Regions from separate parts of the Homo sapiens genome. Here regions 1 and 3 are each reported to be linked to region 2. The links are microRNA targets in miRTarBase. Many come from high-throughput screens and were not tested one by one. Region 2 holds a microRNA gene; each other region holds the end of a gene's coding sequence.
What was found. Region 2 holds the annotated microRNA hsa-miR-4446-3p (CAGGGCUGGCAGUGACAUGGGU, at 2,031-2,052, shown strand). A microRNA usually pairs through its seed, bases 2 to 8, with sites in the 3' UTR of a target mRNA and lowers its output. Matches are read on the target gene's strand: a 7mer-m8 pairs with bases 2 to 8, a 7mer-A1 pairs with bases 2 to 7 and ends in A, and an 8mer does both.

Region 1: miRTarBase lists CABP7 as a target of hsa-miR-4446-3p. Seed matches in the 3' UTR shown: 7mer-m8 at 621-627 and 8mer at 1,995-2,002.
Region 3: the mRNA of SERPINH1 is a reported target of hsa-miR-4446-3p. Seed matches in the 3' UTR shown: 7mer-m8 at 3,080-3,086.

The regions. Positions count from the first base shown.
Region 1 is chr22:29,729,356-29,733,418 of GRCh38, forward strand. It overlaps CABP7 (calcium binding protein 7), which reads left to right. Exons shown (of 5, transcript NM_182527.3): 5 at 87-2,478. The coding sequence ends at 214. ZMAT5 (zinc finger matrin-type 5) reads right to left here. Exons shown (of 6, transcript NM_001003692.2): 6 at 1,601-1,999. The coding sequence ends at 1,870. Among named protein-coding and RNA genes, the nearest start is that of CABP7, 11 kb to the left of the region's middle.
Region 2 is chr3:113,592,888-113,596,952 of GRCh38, forward strand. MIR4446 (microRNA 4446) reads left to right here and starts at 1,989; the gene lies at 1,989-2,055. It overlaps SIDT1 (SID1 transmembrane family member 1), which reads left to right. Exons shown (of 25, transcript NM_017699.3): 10 at 118-161.
Region 3 is chr11:75,571,467-75,575,529 of GRCh38, reverse strand. It overlaps SERPINH1 (serpin family H member 1), which reads right to left. Exons shown (of 5, transcript NM_001235.5): 5 at 2,747-3,749. The coding sequence ends at 3,447. Among named protein-coding and RNA genes, the nearest start is that of MAP6-AS1, 9.7 kb to the left of the region's middle.

The DNA of each region.
Region 1 (4,063 bases), not on the chromosome of region 2:
CCATGTGCCGAAGGGCAGGCGGCTCCTGACTCCATCGCTTTGATGTCCCCTTCTGTCTCCCCGGTGCTCCCGGCGGGCGGCCACAGCCTGCTCCAACCAGCAGATCCGCCAGACTTGCGTGCGCAAGAGTCTCATCTGCGCCTTCGCCATCGCCTTCATCATCAGTGTCATGCTCATTGCGGCCAACCAGGTGCTGCGCAGTGGCATGAAGTAGACGCCACCTGGATGCCCCATCCACCGCATGCGGTGCCCGTGGCCCGCCCCACACCACCGCCGCCTGCAGACCTCTCCCTTGGCCGGCTCCCTGGGCCGCCATCTGCGTGTACTTCAGGGCCTGGGTATCCAGCGAGCCCTCCCCACCCACCCACGGTCCTCACCTGGAGCTGTGGCCTGGCTGTGGAGGGCCGGGTGGTGGCTCTGAGGATGGTCCCCAGCCCCACCCTGTCCCCACCCTGGCCTGTAAGGAGCACTCACTCTTCCTACCATCCAGGGGCTCCTGGGAAATTAAGGAGGGATTTGCACAGGAACCCCCAGGACCCAGTCGCTGCTGTGGTCCCTTGGGCAGGAGCGGGCACCCTGTGCCTTGAGACAGCAGCCTATCTGGGGCCACACAGCCAACCCAGCCCTGGTCCCTGAGGTCTGCCCAGGGCACAGGGCACAGGCAGGGACAGAAAGCCTTCTCCTGGGGGAGGGTGGGAAGCCAGGGTGTCCTGGGCCTTGCTGCCTGGCATAGCCTGAGGAGGCCCCTGGTCTTCTCCTTGGGCCCCTTCCTCTGACCCTCGTTGGACCCCAACCCAGACCCCCTTTTCTCCATGTACCTGCTGGGCCAGCCCATTTCACAGGTGAGGAACCCGAGGCTCAGGGCCCCGAGACTTGGCCTCAGTTCTTCCTTCCACAGGGATTTTCAGGAAAGGCAGAAGCTCGTGGAGGATGGGCATCTGAGGTGGCCCTGCAGCCCCCCACCTTCTGGCCCTCCCACCAGAGGCCCAGCTACCAAGGCCACATTGTCCACCACCCCAGCCTAGAGCCTAGAACTGTAGTCCAGCTGAGGAAGGAGGCAGAGCTGGGGCCTGAAGGCTCTGAGCAGCCTCCAGCCAGGGGGCTCCTCCAGGGCTGAACTTTGGGAGGGCCCCTGTACTACCTCCTGGGCCAAGAAACTGGCACAGCCCCACACTGTCAGTGCCAAGAGGCTGCGCCAGGCCACTCTCTCAGCCCAGGGCCTGCCCTCCTGTCCTCCCACTTCTCTACGCCCTCAAGGTTGGAGACCCCGCTCCCATGCCCCAGCTGTGCCATCCCAAATACTTGGGCAGCAGCTCAGCATGGGCAGACATGGGGGCTGTGGATTCTTCCAGGGCGGGGATGGCAGATGGAGCCCTTGGGCTCCTTGGGCCTAGAGCCACTTCTTACCAGGCAACGGGCACAGCCACCCTGGCACACCCTCTGCCTGGCCGTGCTGAACCTCTGCTGGTCCCAAGGGAGAAGGGAGTGAGCGTGGGTCACCTGGGGAAAATCTCATCTGATTCCCTCCTTGCCCGACCTCTGCTAGGGGCTGGAGAACAGAGCTCAGAGCACCCAGTGTAGGGAAACACAGCCAGACCACTGTGGTGACAGACTTTCTTTATAAACATTTGGAAGTTTTCTCCCCCATCTTCTTAAGAAGCAGGGGGGCAGGTGGAGGAGAGTGAGGGGAGAGCTGCCCGGTGCAGACCCAGGACGAGGGCTGCACTTGGTGTGGCCGTGTCCTGAGCCTCAGTGAGGCTGGGCAGATGGTCTCGGAGCCTCCATGGGGCGTAGCAGGAACCGGGCTTGGCTTCCTATTGTGACTGATGAGAAAAGTGACCACGTGGGGGTCAGTCGGGGGCAAGGGGCTCAGCCCCACTGGACTCTGGGCTGCAGAGGCCACCCCCCAGGTGGGGGTGCCCGCAGGGATGGAGGCAGCTCCTGAACTGGTGGCCAGCCCACGGGGTACTGGAAGACAGTGGTTCTGATGGGTTCAGCCCTAGAGAGAGAGAGAGAAGCGGGGAGAATAAGAGTGCACTACAGCCCAGGCTTATGCCACCCCCAGCCCACCTGCCTCACCACCCTGGCTGTGGGGAGGGTCAGCTGCCTGCATGACTTTTCTGGAAGGCAGAGCCTCGAAAATAGGCAGACCGTTTGAGCCAGCGACCTCACCTCTAGGAACTGAGCCCAAGGAAATAGCGGGGTTGCAGGCAGACATTGAGCTGCGAGACAATGGGAATAACCTTCGTGTCCACCTGTGGGGGACTGATTCAATACATATGCACGTCCACAGCAGAGAATGCCATGCGGCCTGTGTAAGAATTAAGGCAGATTTATATGCACTGATGAGGAAAGACATACTGTGTGATAGGGAGAAAAAGCAGCTTATAAAATAATGTATATAGCATGATACTATTTTTGTTTAAAAATATATAAAATATATAAATGCATAAAAAAATCCTGGAAGACACAGCAAAATGTTAACAGTGGTCCTATCTGAGTGGTGCCATTATGGGTGACTTTTTTACTCCTTTATATTTCTCAAAAGTTTTACGAGCACACAAGCCTTTGAAATCAGAAAAAAACATTGTCTAAATTTTTTTTTAAAGCCTAATTTCTCATGCTACTCACTGTCCTCCTCCTCAACGTCCACCCCGAGCCACCTCCCCTGGAACTTGGGGTCCATGTAAGTACTTGCCCTAGGAGAGGCATCCTCCGTGCCCAGCCCGGGGCACCCTGCCAAGGCCCAGCGATGGCCCCCCAACCATTCTTCCACCTGTCCCATACTCAGATCCTTCTGGCCTTGGGCCCCACGCATGCTGCTTCTCCAGGGCCGCATGGCCCTTCTCAGGCTTCGAAGTACTTTGAACCTTTGAGCACTTTGAACTCCCATCACCCCAGCTGCCTATACAAGACCTTTCTGGAAGGCAGAGCCTCAAAAACATGCAGACCCTTTGAACCAGCAACCTCACCTCTAGGAACTGAGCCCAAGGAAATAGCAGGGTTGTGGGCAGCCATTGAGTTACAGCAATAGCCGTGAGACAATGGAAGTAGCCTTCATGTCCAGCTGTGGGGGACTGATTAAGTACACGTGCACATTGGCCGGGCGCAGTGACTCACGCCTGTAATCCCAGCGCTTTGGGAGGCCAAGGCGGGTGGATCACGAGATCAGGAGATCGAGACCATCCTGGCTAACATGGTGAAACCCCGTCTCTACTAAAAGTACAAAAAAAAATTAGCCGGGTGTGGTGGGGGGCACCTGTAGTCCCAGCTACTTGGGAGGCTGAGGCAGGAGAATGACGTGGACTAAGGAGGTGGAGCTTGCAGTGAGCCGAGATCGCGCCACTGCACTCCAGCCTGGGCGACAGAGCGAGACTCCTTCTCAAAAAAAAAAAAAAAAAAAAAAAGTACACATGCACATCCACATCCACAGCAGAGAGTGCCATGCAGCCGCCGCCAAAATTCAGGCAGGAGCTCATCTGTCTTCCACTTAGGACTGGAGTCCCCAGAGGATGTAGACCAGGGGATAGGGGTAAGGTGTATTTGTACCCCAAGGCGCAGGGCCAGGCCTGGTGCCAGGAGGCCACCCAGTGATTGTGGAACAAACAGCAATGCTGAAAGATCTTACTGACCAGGTGCTATTCTGGGCCACACACCATGACCTAGAGAAACCTTAAGAATCCTCAGGCGAACCCCATTTTATAGATGAGGAAACTGAGGTGCAAGGAGTCAGTCACGTGACCAAGTGACACCCTCGGGATGAGGCCTGAGGGCCTGGAATACCAGCCCCACATCGGCTGCAGACACGGCCTTCCCACTTCAGCTCCCTCTGCTCTGGCACACTCCCACACCCCAACATCCAGCCTTCAGGCAAGGTGAGGCCCTGGCAGCTCCTGGCAGGCTCAGGGGCCCAGTGGCCAGCCCTCTGCAGAGAGAGAAGGGCTTGGGCCTGCGGAGAGGGGTTTGGAGAGGCCTCTGACCTCCGAGGGGGAGGTGGAGAGCCGGGGTCAGGAGCCCTGGGAGTTTCCCCTGCTGCACCCACCCAACCTGCCCCTCTCTGGAC
Region 2 (4,065 bases):
AAAGACATGTTTTGAAGAGATCCTAGTAGACAAATCCGCAACAAAATCTATAAGGAACAAATGTAAAATGCTGAGGTTTTCACTGTCTTAGGAGCATGTGTATGTGCTTGTTTGCAGGTTTCAGAGAAAATCCATTGATGGAAGCTTTGGGTCCAATGATGGTAAGAGCAATGCTTGGTTTCAATTCAAAATGGTGTCGCATAGTGTGGCAACATCCCATTTCATGCTTCTTTTACCTCTCTGCCTTTTGCAATTTACAAACCCTCCCTTGATTCCTATCCCGCAGAGTAGTCTAGCCTGCAGTTGGAAAGCAAAGCTAGTGAAAACCAATTCTATAGTTCAAGAGGTCCCAAGCCCTAGGCCGTGGACTGGTACTGATCCGTGGCCTGTTAGGAGCTGGGCTGCACAGCAGGAGATGAGTGGCAGGTGAGCAAGTATTACCACCTGAACTCCACCTCCGCTCAGATCAGTGGCAGCATTAGATTCTCATAGGACCGCAAACCCTATTGTGAACTGTGCATGCGAGGGATCTGGGTTGCGTGCTCCTTATGAGAATCTAATGCCATAACCCATCCCCACCCCCGTCTGTGGAAAAATTGTCTTTCATGAAACCAGTCCCTAAATATTGGTGCCAAAAATGTTGGAGACTGCTGCTGTAGTTGATAATTATTGAGACGTGGAGCTCACACTAAAAACCTTTACTAGGAGTGTCCCTTGTAATCACAGATCATTGGTCAGCCATTCATCTTTTTTAAAAGTTTCACCTTTTCTAGGACATAATTGTTCATACCTGTCCTATCCCAAAGCTGATTTGTGAACAACAGTAAGAATGTATTGTGCCAACTCTGATACATGGTTTACTTTTTCCCAAACTAAGATGGAGGCTTTCTTAAGTGTCTAGAAAACTGAAATACTTGACCCTAGCAAGTATAATAAAGAGTATAATAACTTGGGGGAATCCAGAGTAATTGACTATCCAGCAATTGTACTATGCCTTTTCCTCCACTCTGAGAGTTTGAACAAAAGAATTCAATGACCTGATCTTTTTAACAAAATTAAAAATTTAAATGTCCTCATTTTTGAAAAACCTAAACTCAGTGCTCATAGGTTATTTGGCATAGAGCAAGAATTTGGTTAAAGAGGAATATGAAGTGGAACTTGGTTTTTAAGTCATACATAGCAGATGTTTAGGTGTGTGTTTTCCACACTTAAATGAGGCCACAGAATCTTAGAAAGACTTTAACTCACCCCCTACCCCCCTCCAGCAGGATCATTGCTCCCTTTGCTGGAGAGTTTGCTTTTTTCTTTTTAATGTTTGTCTTCCTTAATGTCAGCATGCCTGTTTTTCCAGCCACCCAAGCACTTTGTTTTATAAACATTCAGCTGTCAATATAAAAGACTATAAAAGAACACCTGCTCTCGTGGCTTTAAAGTGCTAAATGCTCCTCTCCCTTTTAGTCGTCAGATGTTTAAATGAATTTGTCTGCTCTCTGGATGTCATCTTTTTTCCTACAGGAAAAAAGTTTTGTGCCTCCAAGTTTTGTGATTAGTTTAGGCCTAGTTGAACTTAGGCCTACATCCAATCGATTGAATCCCATTGGGTAGCCTCTGAATGGTTAGTCTGTTATTTTTTATAGTATGAGTGAAGTCTTTTTATTATAATAATATTTATTGAAGGAATTCTGCATTCAGAAGGGTCTGTTGAACATTGAAGCATAAGTGGACAAAGCTGGGACTTGAGCCAGATCATTGTCCAGGTTCAGGGAGGCTCTGAAAATTAGCTAAGAGCTGGAGGTACCCTTCTGATGGTAAGCGGAAACAAATGAGTGACCAAAAAGAGTAAAGATGCATCATTGAGATTCATGTGGCTGTAGGTAACCACAGCAACAAGAAAAAAAAAATCTCAAACCTGCTTAATCAAGAAAGAGACTCCTAGCTCTGGAAGTAGAGCCAAAAGATGTACTTCAGGATTGATGAGTCCAGTGGCTCTGGTCCATTTCCCTGCCATTCCCTTGGCTTCAATTTACTCCCAGGGCTGGCAGTGACATGGGTCAAGGCTCACACCTTCACCTGGCAGCACCAGAGGGAAGGACCTTTTAAGAAGCCCTCAGCAACTTCTTGTGTTTCATTGGCCTAGAGTGAATCATACACTTATTGTTAAACCAGTCACTGCAAAGAACAGATTTACCTACACATCAGATAAACCTACTTTCAGAATTAAGATTAGGTCCTCTTCTCTAAGACCAGAGTTTCTCAAACTCAATATTATTGACATCATAGGCCAGATAATTCTTTGTTGTTGGGGGCTATTCTGTATCTTATAGGATGTTTAATAGCATCCTTCACTTCCGTGCACTAGATTCTAGGAGTTGCCCCTCCTTGGGACAACTAAAAATGCCTCCAGGCTTGGTGCAGTTGCTCATGCCTGTAATCCCAGCATTTGGGGAGGCCGAGGTTGGAGGATTGTTTGGGCCTAGGAGTTCGAGACCAGCCTAGGCAACATAGTAAGACTTCGTCTTCATAAAAACAAAAAATAAACAAAATTAGGTGGGCGTGGTGGTGTGCACCTGTGCTCCAGCTACTTCGGAGGCTGCTATGGGAGGATCGCTTGAGCCCAGGATGTTGGGGCTGCAGTGAGCTGAGATCGCACCACTGCACTCCAACTTAGGTGACAGAGCAAGACCGTGTCTCAAAAAAAAAAAAAGCCTCCAGACATTGCCAAATGTCTTTTTGGGGGCAAAACTCTTTCCCCACATCCCCCTGTTTGAGAACCATGGACCTAAACACATGAAGACACCTAAATAACACACCAGCTTAGGTAAGAAGTAGGGAATAGGAATATTCACCACACAAAAGTCTTGAAATAGGAAGAAAATAAGGAACCTTTGTAAGGTAGAGAGGCCACAGGGAATGATGGCATCACCCCCAATGTCATGACCACTGGTGAGTCAAGACCTAGATGCTTAAACCAAGAGCAGAAGACAAGCACTGCCCAAGGGAAGAACCAGTGACTTTTTTAGGCATCTCAAACAGAGCATAGAGAAATCAACCAGGAGCAAGAGACAGAGGCAAGTAAGGACCATATCTGGAAGCTAGTGACAGACATTCAGGGAAGAAACAAGGATACAGAAATGTCTTTCTCTCCCAAGGCCAGGATCAGCATGACCATGGGGCACAGGAAGTTCGATGGAGCTCAGAGTTACAGGAAATGCCTTGGGTGCTTATATCCAGAGAAAATGCTAGAAGCAGCTTCTTAAAGGGGAAGAGGATCCCACTAGACTTAATACGGTCTCTGCCCACATCATTGTGGAGCTAGATATCTGTGGAACTTAGCCTAAGGCTTTCACCTTAGACGTGACTGAAGTGGAAGAAATGGAATCAGGTCCCTACAGGTTGCCAAATTGGTGGCAGCTCTGTTGGAGTTAGGAAGGATGCACTCAGAAAATCTGTGCGCTACTCTGCATTTGTTTTTCTTTGATATGCCTGAAGTGATTTAATTAAGCTGTATGTGAAAATCTCCATGTTAGCTCCAACTATAATAAAAAGCAAAAAAATGTATTTCATACTTCATGGGATGAAGAAGAAGATTAGACCCTGGAGCCTGGGTGAGATGGAAATACTGTTGGCAAAGAGCTGCTCCAGGGGACTTGAAGGGACTTTTTTACTGTACTATGAATGACTGGACCCTGTATTGTCTAATTATCCTTAATACCAAAGACAGGGCATCTGTGAGAATCTGAGAGGTACTAAGAAAGGCTCTGTGCTCTAAAACCATTTCCTCCACTGGCTTTATCAGAGAGAAACCCCACATTTCACATCATTGTTAAAGAGCCTCTACAGAAATTCAGTTACCAGCTGAGAAAAATAATGAAGCCTCCCCAACAGGCCTCTGGGACCCCTTGAGTTGCCACCAGGAACTGGGGTACAACAGAAGAGGAGGTTACTTTCTCAAATGCAAGAGCTTGGCAGGCCTAATCGGTTGTAGATTTAAGAACCAAATGGCCAACCCAATCCTTCCCTGGATACAGCCATTACTGAACCAGCCTCTTAGCCAAGAGCAAGATC
Region 3 (4,063 bases), not on the chromosome of region 2:
AGTGTCAGGACAACAAGCCCCGTGCTGCAGGGACTGGGGAAAAGATGGGTGACCGCCCCCTGCAAACTGTGGAGCATGGAGCTCACACACGTCAGTAACTTCTCCTTCCTCTACAGCCAGGAAACCTGGGTTCCCATGTGAGCCAAGCTCTGTCACTGTCCTGCTGGGTGGCCTTGAGCTGGTCACTTCCCCTCTCTGAGCCCCAGTTTTCTTGTCCATAACATGGAGCAGTAATAGCTACTCTGGAGGGAAGTCTGAAAAGTAAATGAAATCATACATGGCAGTGCCAGGCACACAGTAGGCACTCAGGAGAAGGCTAATCCGCATCCACATCTGGGACCCGCACAATCCAACAGGCTTATTATCTCCCAAGACTTTAACAAGCACCAGGGTGAGAATAACAGGGTAATCCCTCCAATGGCCTCCAGGCAGCAGGAAAGCTCCACACAGGGCAGTGATGGGGCACTGGGGGGCAGCAACACTGGCTGGACCAACCTCTAGACCCCACCCCACCCCTAACTCACCCACCTCTGCCACCTGCACTGCCACTCACACACCAGCAACTCCAGTCCTCACGGACGGGTGTTTGAGATGCAACAGCACAGACCTCTTACCACCCTCCCCACCTGAGTCAGGATGGAGGAGCGTGGCCTCAAGACCCCCTTTGGGTCCTCTCGGTGGCCCCACACCCGGGCCTGGCTTATTTTACTGCCCATTCCCACTTGGTGGGGGAGCTGTCACAGGCTGAACTTCAGGGCCAGGAGGCCTGGGTTCCAGCCCAGTCTCTGCCTTCTCTGAGCTACACCTTGTAAAGTTAGGATGACTTCCCACCTAACGGGGCTATTGCAAGGATTAAGAGAGATGGATACAGATCGTATGCAAGTTAACATGCCTTCATTACTAGAATCTGTGCTCAGTGCTGGGTTCCAGGCACTGTGTTAGGGGCCTCTCCTGCCCTTCCTATGTGGCGAAGCAACTACCCAACCGACTAGGATCTAGTCCCAGCTCGGCCCCCACTGACTGTAGGGCCTCAGGCAGCTCACTTAACTGCTCAGCCTGTTATCTCACCTGTAAGATGGGGACAATCCCTACCTAACTAGCCAAGCTGTTAGGAAGCTTGGATAAAATTGTACATATTAAGTATTTGGCACATAGGAAGAGCAAAACACAAAGGCGTACCAGCTGGTTGCACTCAAAGCATTATTCTGATCCAGAAATGCCTACTCACCCTTTAAAGCAGCCCCCATATCACCTCCTCCTGGGAGCCTTCCTCGATATGTGCATGATGCTAAAGCTAGGTGCAGGATTTGCTGCAATAGACAAACAGCCATGGACCCTCTCTTCATGGAGCTTCCATTCTAAGAGGGGAGGCAGGCAGGGAAGTCTTAAGTGGGTAATTTCATAGTGCTAAGGAGTCAGTAAAGTGAGAAATCATGGTAGAGAAACTGAGGTGGGAGAGGGACTGCTTGTGTAGGGTGGTCAGGGAAGGCCTCTCTGAGCAGACGTTTACGCTGAATCCTGGATGACAAAAAGCAACCCTGCAAACATCTACAAGAACCGCCTGCCAGGCAGAAAGGACAGCTAGTGCAAAGTCCCTGAGGCAGGGGGACAAGCGTGGCACACCTGGAACAGAATGATCCAGGTGCCTGGAACACAGTGAGCACTGAGTACCCTATCCCTAAGTCTCCACCTCTAGACAAAGCCCCTTGAGGATAGAGATCTGAATGATTGAGCCGAAGCACAGGATGGCCCTGGGACTCTGAGCAGTCTTGCTGAAACTCTGTCGTGGCAATGATGGGAGTGAATCAGCTGGCCCTTCTGCAGACCCATGTACATCTTGGTGGCTACTGCTGGATTGCTCAGCCAGGTAAGGGGTCCCTTCCTGAACCAACAACCCCCAGGTCACAATCTTTGGCAGAGGAAAGCTGGACGTGCCCAGAGAGAAAAATGACCTGTCCTAGGTTAAAAGGCCAGCAGGCAGCAGAAATGGGCCTCCAGCCCAATATCCTCTGCTCCTCTGCCTCCCTGGCCACTGGCTCTGTTCCGTGCATCCCTCTCTCTCCCTAAGGTACGGTGTCAGGAGCCCTAAGGACCATGAGGCATCCAACCGGAGGACTGTGTCAAAAAGGACCGTGTTGGGTGCCTCCTCCTCCCCTGCTACAAATCCAACACTTCGGGCCACCTAAGGGCAAGGATCCCCACAATCTCCTTCCAAAGCCCAGCCCAAAGCCAGGCAACTTACTAAATGTGTGCCTGAGTTTGTACCTGTAGCCCTGGATGTAGCATGAGGTCAGCGTGCAAGGAAAGGCTAGGGGAGCTGGGCATAGTGGCTCATGCCCATAGCCCTGCCTGTAGTCCCAGCTACTCAGGAGGCTGAGGAAGGAGGTTCGCTGGAACCCAGGAGTTTGAGTCCAGCCTGGGCAATATAGCAAGATTCACATCTTAAAAAAAGGGTAAAGAAAGAAAGGCGAAGAGGCTGAAGACTGGCTCCAGGTCCAGTGCTCTCATTCAGGTCCTGCAGCTGCTACTTCTCCAGGGCTGCCAGAGCCAGAACCATTTCCCGGGTCAGCACGGAATGCACCTGCCACTTGGCGCTGTCTGCACAGTGATCTGCCAGCGATCTGCCAGCATTCCAGGGCCTGATATGAGCCATCAGTAGCGAGTCTGCCTTAACAGGAGACCTTGTCCCCTGGGAAGAATGGTGTAAGAATCTCCTGATCCAATCTTCTTCCACGCTCCAACAAAATGTCATTGGAAAAGTTTTATTGAAAAAAAAAATGTACAAATAAGTTCTTGGATTGATAGCAACAAAGGCTCATGTTCCCCCTTCCCTCCCTATCTTTGAAGAACTAAAAAAGGAAGAAACAAAACAAAAAGTTCATCCCCACAACGCCAGACACGATGCTTCTTGACCAGAGTCTGCCCAGAAGCCCCTCCTGGGAGCTCCTTCTCAATCCGCCTCACTGCGGCCAGGTCATTCTGGGGGTGCCTGGTCCCAGGGGCTGCAGCACCTAGTTTTATAGTTGGGAGAGGTTGGGATAGAGCTGGGGAGGCAGCTGAGGTGTTTTAGTGTCAGAAGAGGGCTGGCTGACCCCCCTAGCTCAATTTGGTCTCACAGGTGAGAAGGTACCTGGCTATAAATATGAATACTGATTGAGGCAGGCTTGATCTGGGACTTTCAGGGCAGGCAGAATGACTATGGCCCAGGTCCCACAGGATGTGGAGTTTCCGGGCTCAGCATCATGGTATCTGGGGCCCATGTCCAAGTGGAGTGAATTCTAGCTGGGAAGGTCCGCTCAGGCACACGGGAACCCCGGTCTGTTTTTCCACCCCCACCCCATGGAGTATCCAAGGCTGGTACCTCACCTCCCCCCCAACCCCAATAGCACCCATGTGTCTCAGGAGCCTTTGGATGCCTCCTGCCATCCTGTGTGCACCCTGAGGCCCTATAACTCGTCTCGCATCTTGTCACCCTTAGGCCGGACCAGGCGCCCAATGAATAGCAGGGAGCCGCTTTGGGTGTCCCGCACTAGGAAGATGAAGGGGTGGTCGGCGTAGAACAGCTTGGGGCTGCGCAGCTCCTCGCGCCCGTAGATGTCCTGGTCAAAGGGGTTGCCATCTGTGTCCAACTCAAAGGCGGTGGCGTGGAACACGCTGGCCAGGTACAGGTCCTTCTTGCCTGACATGCGTGACAAGTCGGCCTTGTTCTTGTCAATGGCCTCAGTCAGGCCCAGCCCAGCCAGGTGTTTCTGTGGGAACAAGGAGGTGTGCCAGGTGAGGCCATGGCTGCCAGGCTCCTCCACCCTCAAACCCTCCACCCCATACTACCCTGACCGCTCCTCAGAGAGGAGAGAACCACCCCCTGGTCACCTTCTGTATGCCAGGCATGGCACTGGCACTTCAAATCACAGCTTTCTCAATTCTCACTGCAACCCTACAAGGGCTTCTAATTGCCACTTCACAGATGAGGAAGCTGAGACTCAGAAAAACAAGTGAGAACGTATCCCGGCACTGCCCAGCTGCAGTTCAGGGACAGACAGCATGGGCACCACCCAGGAGCTTA